4 linked regions of the Homo sapiens genome follow. The protein of the gene in region 1 purifies or fractionates together with the protein of each later gene. This does not show direct contact. Each region holds a gene or a part of one and is shown on either strand. Other genes may lie near its edges.

The links. Proteins that work in one complex are often made in the same cells at the same time.
Region 2: the proteins of CADPS (region 1) and MINDY2 purify together in Homo sapiens (affinity purification with mass spectrometry; one large-scale study listed by BioGRID and IntAct). This does not show direct contact.
Region 3: the proteins of CADPS (region 1) and NUP98 purify together in Homo sapiens (affinity purification with mass spectrometry; one large-scale study listed by BioGRID and IntAct). This does not show direct contact.
Region 4: the proteins of CADPS (region 1) and GORAB purify together in Homo sapiens (affinity purification with mass spectrometry; one large-scale study listed by BioGRID and IntAct). This does not show direct contact.

The regions. Positions count from the first base shown.
Region 1 is NC_000003.12:62,868,917-62,872,416, forward strand, and holds part of CADPS (calcium-dependent secretion activator 1), read right to left. Parts: intron 1-3,500.
Region 2 is NC_000015.10:58,777,802-58,781,301, reverse strand, and holds part of MINDY2 (ubiquitin carboxyl-terminal hydrolase MINDY-2), read right to left. Parts: intron 1-3,500. UniProt on the Homo sapiens protein: Hydrolase that can remove 'Lys-48'-linked conjugated ubiquitin from proteins. Binds to polyubiquitin chains of different linkage types, including 'Lys-6', 'Lys-11', 'Lys-29', 'Lys-33', 'Lys-48' and 'Lys-63'.
Region 3 is NC_000011.10:3,679,055-3,682,554, forward strand, and holds part of NUP98 (nuclear pore complex protein Nup98-Nup96 isoform 1 precursor), read right to left. Parts: intron 655-3,500; coding exon 500-654; intron 1-499. UniProt on the Homo sapiens protein: Plays a role in the nuclear pore complex (NPC) assembly and/or maintenance. NUP98 and NUP96 are involved in the bidirectional transport across the NPC. May anchor NUP153 and TPR to the NPC.
Region 4 is NC_000001.11:170,538,666-170,542,165, forward strand, and holds part of GORAB (RAB6-interacting golgin), read left to right. Parts: intron 1-544; coding exon 545-902; exon of another isoform or gene 903-906; intron 907-3,500.

The DNA of each region.
Region 1 (3,500 bases):
AATTATCCCAGAGTCTTGCCTACAATCAGTTGTTCATTAGTGGCAGGGTTTGAGCTAAAACACAGGTTTCAAAATATAGGTTGAGTATTCCTTATCCTCAGTGCTTGAGAGCAGAAGTGTTTTGAATTTTTAAAGGATTTTAGAATATTTATGTCATACTGGTTGAGCATCCCTAATCCAAAAATCTGAAATCCAAAGTGCTTCAATGAGCATTTCTATTGAGCATCATGTCATGATCAAAAAGATTTTAGAGCATTTCAGATATTATGTTTTTGGATTATGGAAGCTAAATCTGTATATCCTTTCCCTTCATCATCTAGCTTTTTTCATTCTGATATGGAAGTCATTTAGCCTCCTAGATCCAGCCATTCCTGCAGTCACTTCTGTACCAGTCTCTTCACTTACATGAACCAGTAAGTCACTCAACCTCTTTTTTGATTTAGCCACTTGTGCTGGGTTTCTGTCACTTAGAACCAACAGAATCTGACTGACATTGCCTAACAGTGACTCTTTTCCACATTTCTGCTACCTAGTGTTCTTCTCCAGACTGCAATACCTGTTTTTCCTATGCTTACTCAAATGAAATTAACTTTTAAAGACCTAACCCTAGTCTACTTTCTCTATGAAGATTTTTTTCTACTACTGTATCCAATCCTGTGTGTGCATGCACTCTTCTTTCTTCCTTCCCCACTTTAGTACTTCTAATCAGCGTCTTACAACTAAAACTTTCTTATTCAGCTTATTTGACATATATGTTATCTTCCAAACTAGAAGCTCCCCCAGTTCAGGAACCACATCTCACAAGTACCAATTTCTTCTGCCATCAAGCCTGGGTGAGCGCTTGGTGCAATGAGTAACTGGTCAGTTATTTAGAACTTATTTCTAGGTTAGAACTCTCATCATTCCAGCTTAAGTTTTATAGACACCTGTCCCCAAATCACAGATGCTGGTTATATTTCAACATGATAGCTTACGATTGTTTATTAAATTTGCTTTTGCAGTGGGAAGATCCCTAAGTCATTTGACTTTTATCATTTTACTCAGTGCAATTCTTCAGGAATGAAACATTTAATTTCCTTTGTTCTTCGGTCCAGTTTTAGGGAATCATAAGCCTATGCTAGGGGTGTAATGAGGCAAGAACCTTTCATGGTATTCCGCATCTTCAGAAAGTCTCTGCTATCAGTGCATAACAGCGGCTTCCCAATGTACCAAGGAAAATGGGGAGGGGAGAATGCCAACAAGCCCATTTAAATAATTCAGTTCTTCCCCTGATGAAGAGAAACAATTCTGTTTAAAGAAAAATTGGTTTAATCGTCACTTTGTTCTCTCAAAAGGTAGAATTTTTTTTTAGACTGCAAGTCATATATTGCACTAACAAAGCAAACCTTAAGAATTTTGAGTAGACCAAAGTGCCTCAAAATATATCTGAGTAGACAACTTTATTATTGATTCAAAACACACACATACTTGCGCTCTCTCTCACACACATATATAGTTAGCTAGCACTAGGTCTTTTTATGTAAGGTATGGCTTTTTAGTCTTGCCCAAATAAGCCCAAGTAAATGAATAAGGAAAGAATTTCTATGGCTATGACTCAACATTAGCCATCATTTCATGGGCAGATACAAGCTGAATCATACAGAAATGAGTAGCTTGAACTTACAAGACATTTGTCCTCTTGAATGAAATAGGAATTGCTGTGTAATAGACAGTTTTAAGGATTACCCTTTTCCCCCATCATGCACAGACACACATGTACACTATACCTATGTATGTAGACACAATGCTCATTTTAAACTATTAGAATAATTCCTACATCATTTAAAAAATGGTCATGTCAATCTAAATATTACATGAATTGCTAACAGTGCCTGCTTTTACATTCCCTCACTATAAGTAGCTAGTTCACACAAGGTAGCCACCCATCACCGTTACTACATAGTTTAGAAACATATGGTATAGCTTTGCCATGCCAACTTCTAGGTATTCACTTTACCATTCTGACAAAAGAAGAAGAAAAAGCAAAGAACTGCTTTCCAAACTGTCATTTCTGAGCTACTGAAACATACATTGTTACATTCTGGTGGGGAGATTTTTGTTTTGGTCATAAATTATTTCGCCATGTTATATTTCAATTCACAGTAATGTAACATAATATATCGGTAAATAATAAAATGTTTTTTCAGATAGTCTGTTTAAAGTCCCCTCTTTAATTAGGAAGATTGTTGGAATGCTCTTTTTCTCAGTAAAAGTGAAACCAAAGTAATTACCAAAATTATCCAAATGATGGTACTGTCTCCTTCTGTTCCTTCGGAAGTGTTCTTCCGAGCTAAAATCTTTTTCCTTTCAGTTTAAACGACATAGTAAAGTTGATACAGTCTAGTGTTAAATTTACCCACTAAAAGCCCATCCCTCTCCTTCATATTCTTTAAGAAGTTATACTTAAGCATCCACTTTGCCCATAGTGACTATATTTGATGGGTGTACAGGGGAAGAAAGGAGGACCTCTCTCAATTCAGAGAGAAATAACTCTGGGTAAAGAAGTACACCTGACATGTTGTTAGGATTCTAGGGCTCTTTTTATCCTAGACTATTTCTAGCCAGTATCTCATATTAAAAAGATAGGATTTGGAATCAGAATGTTTCACACTTCAATTGCCATCTTTTACCCATCTACGTGGTGCTTTAGGCAAATAACAAAATTTCCAAGTCTCAGTTTTTTAAAAACGAGGATGGCAATTTGTACATTGTTAGAGTTAGGAGATTTAAAAAATGATTTAAGAACAGAAAAAAATAACTTTGGCTAAAAACTAAGGAAATCTGAATAAACTACAGACTTTAGTTAATAATAATGTATCAATATTAGTTCATTGTAACCCATGTCCCATACTACTGTAAGATATTAAGAAGGGAAATTAGATATGGAGTATATAGGAACTCTCTGTACCGTATATCAATTTTTCAGTGAATTGAAAGCTGTTCAGAAAGATAAAATCTATTCTTCAAAAAATGATCTATGTGCCGTGCACATAGTAGATACTTGAAAAAGTGGTGTGAGTATTGTGATATAGATTATTTGGTTTCATATGGTGCATTATACTCTGTACAATATGGTCTTTTCTCCACAATTCAGCAATTCCTTTTCATAGATCTCGTTCTCTCTCTCTCTGACCTCCATATCATCCTATCCCTTTCTCTACATTTTTCCTCTTTTTCTAGTTCATCCTTTTCTATTCTACTGCAAACTCATGTTTAGTTTACAACTAGTTTATCTTTCTCCAAGACTAACTTTAGCTCATCAACTATTTGTTGGCTTTAAACTTTACCACAGTGATTATGCAAACCTTTTAATTACTCTCAATCATTGCTTATTTTTAAAAAATCAGAGTTCTAAGCTTTCTACTTGAAGGAGCAAAACACACCTCTAGAAAGGCATTAAAAACTTACAGATATAGCAGTGAAAAAGCTTCTTTTTGTAATAAGGAGATATATATATATAT
Region 2 (3,500 bases), on another chromosome or scaffold:
GGTGGGCTGATCGCCTGAGGTCAGGAGTTCAAGACCAGCCTGGCCAACATGGTAAAACCCTGTCTCTACTAAAAATACAAAACAATTAGCTGGGCATGGGGGCAGGTGTCTGTAATCTCAGGTACTTGGGATGCTGAGGCAGGAGAATAGCTTGAACCCAGGAGGTGGAGGTTGCAGTGAGCCAAGACCACACCATTGCACTCCAGCCTGGGCAACAAGAATGAAACACTGTCTGGAAAAAAAAAATTAACTAGTAAAAGAAGGCATCTTCCATTCAGAATTCACTATTTATATTTAAGAAGCTCAGCAAGCTTACTAGGCTGAAATATCTCCCCCCTCAAAAATTGATAATAAAACTTTTACATTAATTGCTTGAAAGATGAGAATAGGGTAAGACAAGAGACCATTTTGAAGGCTACTAAGGTAGTCCAGGTGAGAGATAAAGGCCTGAACTAGGGTAGTAGCAGTAGAAACAGAAGTTACTAATGACTGAAAAAATCCAAGAATATATTTAATAAACTACAATGGGAAAGGCCAGCTGATTCACCTTAGTGCCCCAAAGAGACTCTGAAACTAGAAGTGTCAGACACTTCAGGAGACATAAGATAAAGTACAGAGAGCTAAAAACCGGAGTCTGTATAAAGACCAACTGGTACCAAGATCCCAGGAATCGATCTAAGGAATCATGAAGTCCATTTCTGCTTCTCTGACTTTATCATTGGCTGTCCCACCCTGTTTTGCCCCAGACCTACTGTCCACCAGACTTATTGCTATCTTGAACTTTATCTTCCCAATCAAACATCCTGAGTGAGAGCTCTGGTTCTAGAGTGGGTGATAATCTTACCTTGGACTAGTTATTTAAACTTTATGCACTTCAATTTTCTTTCTTTTTTTTTTTTGAGATGGAGTTTCGCTCTTGTTGCCCAGGCTGGAGTGCAATGGCGCTATCTCGGCTCACCGCAACCTCCCTCCCAGGTTAAAGTGATTCTCCTGCCTCAGCCTCCCGAGTAGCTGGGATTACAGGCATGTGCCACCACACCCGGCTAATTTTGTATTTTTAGTAGAGAAGGGGTTTCTCCACGTTGGTCAGGCTGGTCTCAAACTCCTGACATCAAGTGATCCGCCTGCCTCGGCCTCACAAAGTGCTGGGATTACAGTGTGAGCCAACCACACCTGGCCTCAATTTTCTATATATATAAAATAAGAACAATAGTCTACATAAGGATTTCATGATGTGGTTGAGAAACTTAAAAGAGAAAACACATACAATGCATGTAAAATAATGCACAGTATCTGGACACAAAAATAACTGAGTACTTACTATTATTATTCAAAGCCCCTATGATTGCTAGTACCACCTGGGCCCAAATGTCCTTCACCTGGGACTCAACAGACAAGGTTGAATGGGGAGTGAGAAGGTTTTTAACTAAAAGACTACTCATACCAAGGGGAGAAGAAAAAATGAACACATCTATCACTATTAGAGGGCAACTCCTACTGGCGGTATTTATACTCTCCTCAGCCCTTGTCTACCTTATCTTACAAATCCAGAGTTACAACACCAATTCTAATTCTTGGAGGAGACTGGGAATGAAAGCCTCAGAAAATGTTACTTAAGTCTTTTGTGTAAACAAAACCCCACAATTGTGTGAAGTTTTAATCTCTTTTTACAGGATCTATATTTAAAAACAAGGTGGGCAGAGGCTAAGATGGAACCTTTGGCTCACCATCTGTTTTTCCTTTTTTATAAGTAATAAACACACTTGGAAAACCTCAAAAGAGCTCTGTGCTACTTCAGGAAGAGAAAATTTGTGTGATTACAATGTTTCTGCAAGTCAGAGGAAAAAGCATAACCTAGATGGAAACTAGGAGAGTATGTGAAAGAATCTGAGGGAAAAAAGTCATCAAGGAGGTAGGGAGAAATAGAGCAAAAACTCAGCCCTGGCAAGAGGCTCACCTTCATGGTGCCTCACTTTGCAGGTGATGAGACAATAGCATACGTCCATTCGAACTTTGAATTTTCTGTTAACAGCCTTTTGTTCATTTTGCCATTGTGCTGTTCACCCTTTTCTAATTTATAAGGGCTCTTTGTAAATTAAGAAATTAGGGTTGGCCATGGTGACTCACGCCTGTAATCCCAGCACTCTGGGAGGCTGAGGCAGGATTACTTGAGGCCAGGAGTTCAAGGCCAGACTGGACAACATGGTGAGACACATCTCTAAAGAGAAAAAAAAAAAAATGGTTGGGCACAGTGGCTCACGCCTGTAATCTTAATAGTTTGGAAGGCTGAGGCGGGCAGGTCACTTGAGGTCAGGAGTTCAAGAACAGCCTGGCCAACATGCTGAAACCCTATCTCTACTAAAAATACAAAAATTAGCCGGAAACTGCATGAACCCAGGAGGCAGAGGTTGCAGTGAGCCAAGATCGTGCCACTGCACTCCAGCCTGGGCGACTAAATGAGATTCCGTCTCAAAAAAAAAAAAAAAAAAAAGAAAAAAAGAAAAAAAATTAGGTGGGCATGGTAGCACACACCTGTGGTCCCAGCTACTCAGGAGGCTGAGGTGGGAGGATTGCTTGAGCTCGGGAGGTCGAGGCTATTCGGAGCCATGATTGCACCACCACACTCCAGCCTGGGTGACAGAATGATAGTCTATCTCAAAAAAAAGAAAAAAAGGAAATTAGCCCTTAGACATATAATCTGGCAAACAGTTCCCTTAGTTTTTAGTGTGTTTTGATTTAGTTTATGGTGAGGTTTTTTTTTTTGGTGTGTGTCTGTTTTTTTAAGCTTTTTTTTATTTTACAGAATCAAATATATTAATCCTTATTTTACAGTTTCTAGGTTTGATGTTTGGAGAAACCAACTTTATATAAAAAAAATCCTGCTTCAGGACCCTGGCATTCCTCCCATGACTTGGAACAGGAGATAATCTCAGCTTATACTAAGCAAAGAAAAAAATTGGGAAAAGAATTCCCTACCAAAAAGAGTTAAGAAGGAAAGGAGATGTGTTTCCAGCATCTTAAATTAGTGCATTCATTTTTCTACTAAAATGCTATACAATGACTAGATATTGCAATACTCTATCTTCTCTATCACAATGTATAGTATAGGTTACATGTAAGTTTTTTGTATGTATGTTGGCCTCAGAACCTATAACATTCTTTCTAAAATAAAAAAAAAGTATAACCAAGTAGGGATTCCCTCTATTACTAAAGAAATATCTTTGTAAGCACTAAAATATATATGTTATATACCTTCTGGCTTAACTTCATAAACACCTAATTACATGGGTCACAGCCCTCAAATAAACCTATAAATAGCACTTATTACAGCTAAAATAAGATTTTTAAAAACTATTAAAAATCAAATATAGTCAAAAAGAAGCAAAACAAAAATGTATTCTAAGTCATACATTTTGATAAATTTACCTGGTATAATTTGTAATTTGAGCCCAGGAGTTTGAGACTAGCTGGGGCACTATAGTGAGACCCCGTCTCCATAA
Region 3 (3,500 bases), on another chromosome or scaffold:
AGAGGTTGCAGTGAGCCACGATCACACCACTGCACTCCAGCCTGGATGACAGAGCAAGACTCTGTTCCAAAAAAAAAAAAAAAAAAAAAACTGACCGAAGACATTGACTTTAAAACCCATATTTGCAATTTTAAAACATGCCAAATGATGTGTAAAACAGCTATCCTCACCCTCACCAAATCTCCATTCTTATTTTATCTCTCATCTTTGGGCTTCTCACTCAAACTAGGACTGAACAAGGGGAAGAGACTGTCTATGGACAAGCCTCAGGAATGTCTATTGCACATACTAGTTGGTAATCAACATAAAATAGCATTTTTAAGTTTCGATATAGCTGTCAGAAACGGTTATATCAAATGAGCCTCAGCAAGATGCCTGCTTTGACAGTGCTATCTCTGTCAGTGCATTCTCAAGTGTATACTAAGGCCTTGTGAGGTATCTGAAGATTTAAGGGCCTGAGAAAAGGAAAATCAGGCAGCAGTTTCAGGATCTCAGGTACCTGCTGTATATGGCGGAGCATTTCAATGACTCTAATATAGTCCAGGTAAACAAGCCCAGATGTTTCCCAATCCTGAATTAGGCTGCTGCGCTCTGGAGGTGCCAGGTCTTCCAAGAACCCCTTCAGGTAGTCATAGTTCTCATTAATGATGGCATCTGAAGAAACAAAGTATTGAGCACAATGTCTGCACAAGTGCATAGTTTCCAAAAGTACAGAAGACATGGCAGGAAGACAGAAAGGAAGGAGAAATAATGTTGGCTGGACTTCAGAAGTAAAAGCACATACAGGCATACCTCAAAGATACTGTGGGTTTCATTTCAGACCACCACAATAAAGCAGGTATCACAATAAAATCACAAATTTTTTGGTTTTCCAGTGGATATAAAAGTTATGTTTACACTATACCACTGTCACTTATTAAGTGTGCAACAGCATTATGTCTAAAAAACCAATATACATACCTTAATTTAAAAATATTTTATTGCTAAAAATGTTAATCACTTGAGCCTTCAGCAAGTCATCTTTCTGGTGGTGGAGGGTCTTTCCTTGATGCTGATGGCTGCTGACTGATCAGGGTGTTGCCTGCTGAAGGTTGTGATGGCTATGCTAATTTCTTAAAATAAGATAACTGAAGTCAGTTCTCTCAAACCCAGCTGCTGCTTTATCAACTAAGCTTAAGTAATATTCCATATCCTTTGCTGGCATTTCAACAATGTTCACAGCATCTTCACCAGGAGTAGATTCCATCTCAAGAAACTGCTTTCTTTGCTTGTCTATAAAGCAAACTCCTCATGAGTGACACCAGTTCAGTCACATCTTCAGGCTCCATTTCTAATTCTAGTTATCTTGCTGTTTCCATCACATCTGCAAGTACTTCCCCCACTAAAGTCTTGAACCCTTCAAACTCATCCATGAGGGCTGGATTCAATGCCTTCCATACTCCTGTTATTTAATGTTGATATTTTGACCTCCTTCCATGAATCACAAATGTTTTTTGTGTATTTTTTTGTTGGGGTCTCACTCTCTCACTCAGGCTGGAGCACAGTGGCACGATCTTGGCTCACTGCAACCTCTGCCTCGCAGGCTCAAGTGATCCTCCCTCCAACCTCAGCCTCCCGAATAGCTGCGACCACAGGTGTGTGCCACCAGGCCCGACTAATTTTTTTGTACTTTTGGTACAGATGGGGTTTCACCATGTTGCCCAACCTAATCTCGAACTACTGAGCTCAAGAGATCCACTCATCTTGGCCCCCCAAAGTGCTGGGATTACAGGTGTAAGCCACCATGCCCGGACCCAAATGTTCTTTTTTGTTTTTCTTTTCTTTAAGACAGGATCTCCCTCTGTCACCCAGGCTGGAGTGCAGTGGTGTGATCATGGCTCACTGCAGCCTCAACCTCCTGGGCTCATGCAGTACTCCTGCCTCAGCCTCCTGAGTAGCTGAAATTACAGGAACATAACACCATGCCTGGCCAATCACAAATGTTCCTCTCCCACCATCCGCCCCAGACAGGGTCTCACGGTGTTGCCCAGGAAGGAGTTCACTGGCATGGTCGTGGCTCACTACAGCCTCAACCTCCCTAGGCTCAGGTGATCCGCCAATCTCAGCCTCCCAAATAGCTGGGAATATAGGCACGCACCACCATGCTCAGCTAATTTTTGTATTTTTTGTAGAGATTGGGTTTCACCATGTTGCCCAGGCTGGTCTCGAACTCCTGGGGCTCAAGCAATCTGCCGCTTTGGCCTCCCAAAGTACTGGGATTACAGGTACGAGCCACCGTGCCTGGCCTACAAATACATCTACAATGGTGAATCCTTTCCAGAAGGTTTTCATTTACTTTCCCAGATCCATCAGAGGAATCGCTATCTATATGGCAGCTATAGTCTTATGAAATGTATTTCTTAAATAATAAGGCTTGAAAGCTGAATTACTCCTTTGCCCATGGGTTGCAGAGTAGATGTGTTAGCAGGCATAAAAACATTAACCTCCTTATACGTCTTCATCAGAACTCTTGGCTGACTAGGTGCATCATCAATGAGCAGTAATATTTTGAAAGAAATTTTTTTTTTTTCTGAGCAGGTTTCAACAGTGGGCTTAAAGTATTCAGTAAACTGAGCTATAAACAGATATGCTGTCATCCAGGCTTTGTTTTTCCGTTTACAGAGCACAGGCAGAGTAGATTCAGCATAATTCTTAAGGGCCCTAGGATTTTTAGAATGGTAAATGAGCTTCTGCTTACCATCACCAGCTGAATTAGCCCTAAAGGGAGAGTTAACTTGTCCTTTGCAGCTTTGAAGCCAGGCATTGACTTCTCTTCTCTAGCTATGAAAGTCCTTGGTGGCATCTTCTTTCAATAGAAGGCAGTTTCATCTACACTGAAAATCTGTTGTTTAGTGTAACCATCTTCATCAATGATCTTAGCTAGATCTTCTGGGTAACTTGCTGTACCTTCTCCATCAGCACTTCCTGCTTCACCTTGCACTTTAATGGAATGGAAAGACAGCTTCTTTCCTTAAACTTCATGAAGCAACTTCTGCTAGCTTCAAACGTTTCTTCTGTAGCTTCCTCACCTCTCTCAGCCTTCACAGAACTGAAGGGAGGTTAGGCTTTTGCTTAAGGGAATGTTGTGGCTGGTTTCATCTATCCAGATCACAAAAACTTTCTCCGCATCAGCCAGAAAGCTGTTTCACTTTCATATCATTTATATGTTCACTGGAGTAGCACTTTAAATTTCCTTCAAGAACTTTCCTTTAACACAACTTGGCTGTTTGGCAAAGAGGCTTATCTTTTGTCCTATCTTGGCTTTCAACATGCTTCTCTCTGTACACCTAATCACTTCAAGCTTTTGTTTAAAGTTAGAGTTGTGCTACCCTTCCTTTCACTTGAACATATTTAGAGGCCATTGTAGGGTTATTAACTGGCCTAATTTCGTGATTATTGGGTCTTAGGAAATAGGAAGGCCCAAAGAGAGGGAAAGAGATGGGGATGACCAGTTGATGGAG
Region 4 (3,500 bases), on another chromosome or scaffold:
CTAGCATTCCTAGAAATAAGAGACTTCACTCAATTACATGCCTGTTATAGCATCTGAATATGTATCACATATGTACCAAATTGCCCTAAAAGCTGTTAAAATTTAAGAGAGGGTAATCCCATTTGAAAATGCAACCACCATTTTGTTTCAGTAGAGCAGACAGAACCATAAATCAAATTTAAAACCAGATAATTCAGTCACCTCCCTGATTTGGTCAAAATTAGTTGCTTTCTTTTGACAACTATGAAATCAAGTTGAAAAAGAAACTTCACTTTGTGACCTAAGGCCTAACTCACTGATGGACTTTCTCTGAAGATAAATTAAGAGATGGGGCAGTTTCTGTTAAATATTAACATTATGATCTGAAAACTATTGAAACTCTACAGGAAGATGGCTGTTTTTCCCCTAGACTTTCAAGATAGAGAATGGGGTAGGAGAACCACTAGAATTATCAACGTTTAATGTTAATTTTTTATTTTCTTAGAGGAATTATAATTATTTGCTGCCCACACAAAGGAATTTTCCTCTATTTTCTTTTACATAGATCCATTTGAACCACAGCGACGTCTCCCCGCGAAGAAAAGTCGACAACAACTTCAGCGAGAAAAAGCCCTTGTAGAGCAAAGCCAAAAACTTGGGCTTCAAGATGGATCAACCTCATTACTTCCAGAGCAGCTGCTTTCAGCACCAAAACAGAGAGTTAACGTTCAAAAACCACCTTTTTCTTCCCCTACTCTTCCGAGTCATTTCACTCTCACCTCCCCCGTTGGTGATGGACAACCACAGGGCATTGAAAGTCAGCCAAAGGAACTGGGACTTGAGAATTCCCATGATGGTCACAACAATGTTGAGATTCTACCTCCAAAGCCAGATTGCAAATTGGAGAAAAAGAAAGTGGAATTGTTAGTAAGTCTATGTGAAAAGTCCATGAGACTTTTCATTTAACCCGTTTTTTCCCAATGGGCTTTAAGGAAATATAATTTGTTTATTTTAACATTTTCTCTCCTTTATATTCATTCAATCATAGGAATGTGATGTATAAACTATTGAAAAATAGCTACTGCCTAAATATAAGCTGGACACAGGCATTCTGTATGTTTTATGTTCTTTAGTCTTCATAACAGCCTTACAATGCATGTTTATTATTTAAACTTTATACATGAGGTATCTGGGACTCAGAAAAGATGATACCTTTCTAAAGCTAATACACTGCTAGTAAATAGTAGAGATTTACAGATAAGTCTGTCTGGATCCAAAGTTTATGCCTTTTACACTGAGCAGAAGCAGTTCTTTTTTTCTTTCTTTTTTTTTTTTTTTTGAGATGGAGTCTCGCTCTGTTGCCCAGGCTGGAGTGCAATGGCGCAATCACAGCTCAGAAGCAGTTCTTATATGCATAGTGCCTCTGCCCAAATTGACCCCTTTTTTCAACTTCCAGACTATTTCCATTGGCCCAGAAATTGGAACTTGTGGAGAGACGTGAAGGGATGGTCAAAGGAGAGAGTGTAGGAAATTTAGGGGACTAATGATATAACTCAGTTCATCATTAGATTTCTTTTTATTTATTCTTTACTGTCTTTGTATTAGAAACAACCTTCATAATTTAGCTACACTGTTCTTGTGGAAGATGCCATTTTTTGATTTGCAAATTCTTAGAATTTTTTATTTGATAGCTTGTGTTTTAATATATACTCTTATTTCTTTGTTTGCTCCTGATTTATCTCTCACAGAGAAGGAATGACATTTTTCTGTTTTCTCTTTTCTGAGTTCTTTTCAAAGTATCTTTTTTTTTTTCTAATCTCTGACATCTTTTTAATCTCTGCTGATCCAGATTCTATCCTGTGAATTTAAAATGTTTCCTGTCCACTAGGGGTTTACAACTAAGAAATCATTTTGACAAGAGTTATAAAACCACATGAATTATGAAACCTATATTGAACAAGTGCATACATTAAAGTGTCTCTAAGTGTAGTTTACTAACAAAGGCCGGAGACAAATAGGAGGTAAGTTTACATTGAGCTGGACAATTTGGATTGGATGTTATAGGGAAACTTATTCTTTTTTTGGATACTTGGAAGAATTTTCATAAAAGACCTGTAACCTCAAACCATTCACGTAAAGGAGAAATTTTGAGGTTTTAAGGAGGAGAAAGGAAAGCTGTGTCCTAGAGAATGTTCAGAGATGATACCTCATTTCTCTGGGAGAGGTGGCAAAGGATAAGCCAGAGAACAGTAGAGAATTAAAGAAATGAGGAAGGAGGACAGGCGTGGTGGCCCACACCTATAATCCCAGCACTTTGGGAGGCTGAGGCAGGCACATCACTTGAGGCCAAGAGTTGAAACCAGCTTGGCCAACATGGGGAAACCCTGTCTCTACCAAAAATACAAAAAAATTAGCTGGGCGTGGTGGTGCATGCCTGTAGTCCCAGCTACTTGGGAGACTGAGGCACAAGAATTGCTTGAACCTGGGAGGTGGACGTTGCAGTGAGCCAAGATCATGCCACTGCATTCCAGCCTGGGCAACAGAGCAAGATTCTGTCCCAAAAAAAAAAAAAAAAAAAAAAAGCAGAACTGAGGAAGGATCAGAAGCAGAAGCAGGGGATGAATAAGTAGAGAATTAAAGAAATGAGAAAGGATCGGAAGCAGGGGATGCCTTCCTTCCTAGCAAGTTCACTAATGCAGCAAGTTACCATGAAGCTCTCTGAGGGCTAAAGGCCGCAATCAAAATAAAGGTTAGAGAAATCCCAGGTGTCAATATTGTAGATCATATGCAAGAGAGTGCATAGTGAGCTGTGGAACTAAGGCGCCTGGTGAGGAGATGCCTGCAGTAGTAAAAGTGAGAAATGACCAGTCCCAGCACTAAGGTGGAAGGTGTAGAAATGGAGAGAGAAGGACAATTTTGGAAGGGGCTACTAGATTTGGGAATAGAGGTATGTGATATAATGGCTGTAAGAAGTGACAGTAATAGGAATAAATAGCTTTGCCAATACCTTGTTTAATTTGAGTTGACATCAAGCTCATGACTTTATGGGAAATTTTAATGTATTTATTTTAGAATTGGACAGATTGTAAGACAATACATGTTTTCACATCTTTGAATTTTTTTCTTTAGCCCAGCATTCCAGTCTTAGCTCTTAGTGTTTTACTTTGTTTAAAAATGTCCAAGTTGGGCTGGGCACAGTGGCTCACACCTGTAATCCCAGCACTTAGGGAGGCAGAGGCGGGAGGATAGCTTGAGCCTAGGAGTTCGAGACCTGACTGGGTAATATAGCGACACCCTGTTCTCCACAAAAAGGAAAAAAGAAAGACAAAAAAAAGTCTTAAGAGTTGGGAAAAAGTGAGCAAATTGAAAGAAAATATTAATATATGAAATAAACATTGGTTATTGTCTGAAACATGTTAAGGTGGTGGAGACTTTATAGAAAACTCTAAAAGGTATAAATAATATGACATCAGCTACAAACCAATTTTTATTAATCTCCATTCTGCATATAATACATAATT